2 separate regions of the Homo sapiens genome follow, and region 1 is linked to region 2. The links come from fine-mapping of genetic effects on gene expression. A gene starts in region 2. The other region holds a variant in brackets. All regions are shown on one strand. Distances are between the middles of the regions. Region 1 overlaps MPG (N-methylpurine DNA glycosylase). Region 2 holds the start of RHOT2 (ras homolog family member T2).

Region 1 (3,000 bases), 580 kb before region 2:
GGGGATGTGGTTGGTCCCCAGTGCTCTGCTGTTAACTCTGGGGCTCCGAGCAGTGACACAACTGTTGGCCGTTACCAGGACCATGGTCCAGGCTGGGGCACCGTGGGGCAGCTGGGCCTACTGCTCAGAAAGCCGGAGGGTGGGAGCTGAGTATGAGGGTCCCTTGTGGCCACCTCAGCAGCCCAGGTTTAGGGGACTTCACGGGCTCTGGGATTGCCCAGGTAGCTGGTGTGGGGACATCCTTGGGGTCCTGTGCCTTCCGTGATGCCTGGCCTCGTGCTAAATGCTGATGGTTTTCTCAAGGGCACTTGGGAAAGGAGGAATCTGGGGAATGGAGGGTCCTGCTGAGAGGACTTGACCTGCAAGGTGAATCCATGACTGCCGGTTCCCAGCCCAGCCTGGCTGTGGCCTGAGGTATCTTCGGCCTGCGGTCTGGTTGTCTAGCAGGGCTGGAGGAGACAACTGGTGCCCTCAATAGCCACATTCAGCCTCAGCAGGAGCAAGAGAAGAGGCAGGATGGAGACGGGGCAAGGTCCCTGGCTAGACCTGGGCGGCTGACACACCCTGAGCTGGGGAGATGAGGTCCAGGCTGGGCACTGTTAGGGTGAGTGGACCCCCATCCCTTCCCGCCCTGAGCAGAAACTGACTGCCCACAGGTCCTAGTCCGGCGACTTCCTAATGGCACAGAACTCCGAGGCCGCATCGTGGAGACCGAGGCATACCTGGGGCCAGAGGATGAAGCCGCCCACTCAAGGGGTGGCCGGCAGACCCCCCGCAACCGAGGCATGTTCATGAAGCCGGGGACCCTGTACGTGTACATCATTTACGGCATGTACTTCTGCATGAACATCTCCAGCCAGGGTGAGCAGTGCTGGGGCACGGGGGGTTGGAGGGCCGGCAGAGCCCTGTCCGCTAGCAGCCAGGGGACCACTAGGAGGACTGAGGTGGGGCCAGCATTTGAGCGAGGAGGTGCCACTTCCAGGCCAGGCCAGGGTTTCGGGAGCTCTGGCTACGCTGACGGGGCAGGGCTGGTTAGGTTAAAGGGGTAGAAAGGGCCGGGTGGGGCCGGGCGCGGTGGCTCACGCCTGTCATCCCAGCACTTCGGGAGGCCGAGGCGGGCGGATCACCTGAGGTCAGGAGTTCGACACCAGCCTGGCCAACACGGTGAAACTCTGTCTCTACCAAAAATACAAAAATTAGCTGGGTGTGGTAGTGGGCTCCTGTAATCCCAGCTACTAGGGAGGCGGAGGCAGGAGAATCGCTTGAACCCGGGAGGCGGAGGTTGCAGGGAGC[C/G]AAGATCGCGCCATTGCACTCCAGCCTGGGTGACAGAGCGAGACTCCATCTCAAAAAAAAAAAAAAAGGAAAGGAAAAGAAAGGGTTGGTTGGAGTGGAGGCAGAAAGAAGGCCGAGGACACAGTGTCGCCTGCCCTTGACGGAGGCAGCACATGAGGATGAGAAGCTGATTGGAGAAGAGGATGACTGCAGTGCTAAGAGCAGCGTGGTCAGGTTGCCAAGGATGGAGCAGTGGGCACAGCAGGGGGACTTAGGGTCGGCGGAGGAGTCGGTGAGGAAAGGGAGGTTTGGCAGGAAGTGATCAAAGGGGTCATGTTTTTGTCAGGATGTGGGACTTGGATGTGTTCTGTGTGAAGGAGCCAGGGCACGGGGCTGTGGTGATGAGGGCGGCCAGGCTTTGACTCATTTGCAGGCGGCTCTGTGGGGGCTCAGTGAGACAACGAGGGGCGTGTGCCCTGCACCCACAGGGATGTAGAGGGTCCTGCTCCTCCCTACTGAGGTGGGTCAGGGTGGGCAGCAGGCACCCCACCTGGTGAGCTGGAAGCAGCGTGGGAATCACAGAATGGACGGGAACTTAAAGGCTTTGCTTGGCCTGGATTTTATCTTGAAATACTTTTGACAGCTGGCTGGTTGAGGGTATCTGCTCACAGGAACGCCGCATTTGCTGGCTTTGTCCACTAGTGCTCGCCCCTGGCTGCTGATGCGGAGCCTCACGTGGCCGCAGCCCAAGAGTAGGGACTGGCTTGGCCACCTCCAGGCTAAGCTTCGGACTCCCAGGTGGCTGGGAGGGCCAGGGGTGCACAGGTGCATCAGAGCAGGTGCTGCCTTGCTGGAGGGCCAGGGCTCTTCTGGCCAGGGTCCAGGTCATCATTGTCCCCAGCCAGGAATCCAAGGGGCCTTTCCAAACCTGCAGGGCAGAGGGAATTCGGGTATCTGTGCTTGAGTGAGCCCCTGGGCCCAGGAGCCTTCGCTTGCTGTCTCTGTTTCTCAAGGGGCCTGGCCTGGTGAGGGAGGGGGCTAGGCTGGAGGAGGGATCCCAAGGGAGGTGAGGGGGCTTTGTCAGCCTCCTCCTGCCCTGCCTGTGCAGGGTGTTGCAGTCAGTCCTTCCACTGAGTCATTGCATGGGCTCTCCCAACATCCGGTGCACACTGGCAGCTGCTCTAAGCCAACTCCTAGCCCCCACCACTTGACCAACACAAACACTGAGTGGGTGAGGCAGAAGGGGAGCGCTGGGGCCTGGCTAGGCCAAGGCTTCCTGCTTCCTGGCTGAATGATCGCACCCGAGGACTGGCTCTCTGGAGCTTCCTTTGCTGGCTTTATAGCTGCTGCCAGTCACAAGACCAGGGGAAGCCAGGTGGAAAGGAACTGATACCCAGCATTTGTCATGTGTTTTTAACAGTCTGGCTTTGTGGGGGCGGCCACAGTGGGGGAGGCCCTGCCTGGTGGTGGAAGCCAGAGGTGCCCACAGGAGGCACACCTCATGGTGCAGGCTTGGAGGATGGCAAGGTAGGCAGAGGGGTCTGGACACAGTGAGGTGCAGCCCCCTCCCACCAGGTCAGACCCAGGAGATGGTGCAGGTGCACAGAGCAGGTCCCTGGCCCAGGCAGGAAGGCAGCTGCACCCTCCCTGCAGCACAGGATGTCTGGATGTGTACTAGGGCAGAGAGGACAGGAGCCTAGGGAGGCTCCACTTCCAAACTGTCCGTCC
Region 2 (2,542 bases):
CTGTCTTAGGTGGGGGCCAAGTGGGCTGACTGGTGCCCTGTTCCAAGACAGGTGCCTCACCTGTGCCCCGGGCTCCTCGTCTCTGGGGTGGGGTGAGGACATCTGCCCTAGAGAGGGTCCTGGAGTCAGGAGATGATGAGGCAGGTGAGGAACCAGGCACAGCGCCCAGCACAGGGCCTGAATGCACGGGTGGCAGCGACTTTTAAGGAGGGAACTGGCCCAGCTGCAGGCCGACAGCCTGGCAGTGATGGACCCCCTAGTCCCAGTGGCACGTGGAGGGCACAGCCAGGAGCCCTTTTAGCACCAGCTCCCCCGACCAGCATCATGCCCAGTGGGGACAGTCTGGGTGGGTTGGGGGAGCCCTCTGAGTGCTGCCTGGTCCTGGCCCTGGCCCACCTGCACCGTCTACCCACAGAGTGCATGCTGAGGCTGGTAGACTGTGCCATGGGGACTGCCCAAGACTTTGCCGGCCACGACAACGCAGTGCACCTGTGCAGGTTTACACCGTCCGCCAGGCTGCTCTTCACGGCCGCCCGCAACGAGATCCTTGTGTGGGAGGTCCCCGGCCTCTGAGATGCAGCAGGGACTGTGGTGGTGGGCATCACGCCTGGTCATGCCAGGCACCTGGACACAGGCTTGGCAGAGGCGCCAGGTTGTCAATGGCCTCATGCTGGGACAGGCCAGGATTCACGTAAATCGCCTGGAGCAAGCTGTTGTAAATTTGGCGCCCTGTGAATACTTTCATACCTGTTGCCCTTTTGCCTAAGAAATCTTTAATGTTTCTATCTTGTAATAAACATGGGCATTTATTGCATTATTGCTGCATTGTTGCACTGGCTGTCTCTGGTCACTCCTGGCCTGAGCTCAGCCTCTGCCCGTCCCTTAATCGGCTGTTTGTCAAGGCCCCTGTGGTGCCGTGAAGCAATGGCCGCTCGGCCTGCCAGGGCGCCAGGACCCTGCGCTGTCCGCCGTGGCCGGCGCGTCCACACGGTGGCGCGCCGCACAGCCTGTCCGCTCTGGCCCGCCCGGCTCGCTGGTGCGGCTGTGCGGGCGGGGCCGGAAGTGTGGGGACAGCGCGGGGCCGAGAACCGGAAGTGCGGGGCGGGCGCGGGGGCAGAGCGAAAGGCTTGAGGACCAGGTCGGGGCCGGGTTCCGGGTCGGGGAGCGGCTCCGGGCGGCAGCTATGAGGCGGGACGTGCGCATCCTGTTACTGGGCGAGGGTAGGCGCCGGCCCGGGGGTCTCGGAGCTGCGGCGGCCGTGAGGCGGGGTGAGGGTCTCGGGGGTCGGGGGGCGCCGTGACCTTGGCCCTCGCGCTGACCGCCTCGCCCCGCGCAGCCCAGGTGGGGAAGACGTCGCTGATCCTGTCCCTGGTGGGCGAGGAGTTCCCCGAGGAGGTAAGGGGCACGCCCGCCGCGGGGGTGGGAGCGGGCCCAGCCGGGGGTCCCTGGTGAGCGCGCGGGTCCCTTGCAGGTCCCTCCCCGCGCGGAGGAGATCACCATCCCCGCGGACGTCACCCCGGAGAAGGTGCCCACCCACATCGTGGACTACTCAGGTAGCGGCCGTAGCCTCCCGGGGGCCCGGCCCGCAGCGGTCCGGCGGGCCTGCTGGGTCCGCAGTGGAGTCTCTTTGTCCCCCTAGAAGCCGAGCAGACGGACGAGGAGCTGCGGGAGGAGATCCACAAGGTACCCGTGGTGCGCGGGACGAGGGAGGGGCTGGGCGCGGGCTCGGCCTAATCCGCTTCGCAGCCTGGGGGATTGGACCGAGGTGCTCCGGGTGTCCTTGGCCCTGATAATTCTGTGACCTCCGCACTGAGGGTTGTCGGGGCCCCTACAGCGCACCCCGCTGGGAGCCGGCACCGCTCAGTCCAGTGGTGCTCCAGGGATAACAGGACCCTTCCCCGCGGGCTCTCCCTCCCTCCTGCCGGGGTGGCAGCAGCGTTTGCTCTTCCTGTGGGCTCTGTGTGCGCCACGTCCCCGTGCTGTGTGCTCCAGCCCACCGTCCCGGCCTCCGGGCACCCGGAGCTCCCAGTACCAGAGCACGTGTGCCGGGGACATCTCCAGGCAAGGGCACAGGCCACAGCCACCCAGGGCAGCCCCTGCTGTTGGCACCCCTCACTGCGGTCCTGTCACTCTGTCTGTAGCGAGGGGGGAGGCAGGGGCCAAGGCGGCGGCTGTCTTGCAGGGTGTTGGGTTGCAGGTGTGGCCGTGTCTGTCCTGAGCCCTCTGCTCCAAGGGTCTTGCTGACCACAGTTATGCTTCTGGGGCCTGGTGTCCCTGCACTGGCAGTGGGCGGGGAAGAGGCTTCTCTGAGGGTTCAGCAGCAGCTCCCAGTGTGACACTGGGGAGTGCCTGCTCTGCCAACACCAGGCTGGAGGCAGGTTTTAGGGAAGGCTGGGCTTTCCCGGCCTCAGAGCTGCACCCATGCTACCTGTGAGCTTCTGGGGCCTCCTGGAGCCTCGAGATGGCGTGGAACGGCCAGGGTCGTCGGTGGTGAGCCAGCAGCCCTGTCACCCACACCTCATCACTGTTCCCTCAGGCAAAC

What was found. PIP is the estimated chance that this variant, and not a neighbour inherited with it, causes the effect.
Region 1: its variant is fine-mapped to the expression of RHOT2 in skeletal muscle (GTEx, PIP 0.93).

The regions. Positions count from the first base shown.
Region 1 is chr16:82,396-85,395 of GRCh38, forward strand. MPG (N-methylpurine DNA glycosylase) reads left to right here. Exons shown (of 4, transcript NM_001015052.3): 3 at 657-861. It overlaps NPRL3 (NPR3 like, GATOR1 complex subunit), which reads right to left. Exons shown (of 14, transcript NM_001077350.3): 14 at 2,991-3,000. Among named protein-coding and RNA genes, the nearest start is that of MPG, 5.7 kb to the left of the region's middle. RefSeq lists enhancers at 1,213-2,068, 2,776-2,895 and a silencer at 2,616-2,675. The variant C/G (reference allele first, on the strand shown) is at 1,294.
Region 2 is chr16:667,017-669,558 of GRCh38, forward strand. RHOT2 (ras homolog family member T2) reads left to right here and starts at 1,116. Exons shown (of 19, transcript NM_138769.3): 1 at 1,116-1,220; 2 at 1,337-1,395; 3 at 1,472-1,553; 4 at 1,640-1,683; 5 at 2,537-2,542. The coding sequence starts at 1,184. It overlaps WDR90 (WD repeat domain 90), which reads left to right. Exons shown (of 41, transcript NM_145294.5): 41 at 416-814. The coding sequence ends at 573. RefSeq lists an enhancer at 827-1,508 and silencers at 894-1,233, 1,294-1,393, 1,494-1,583.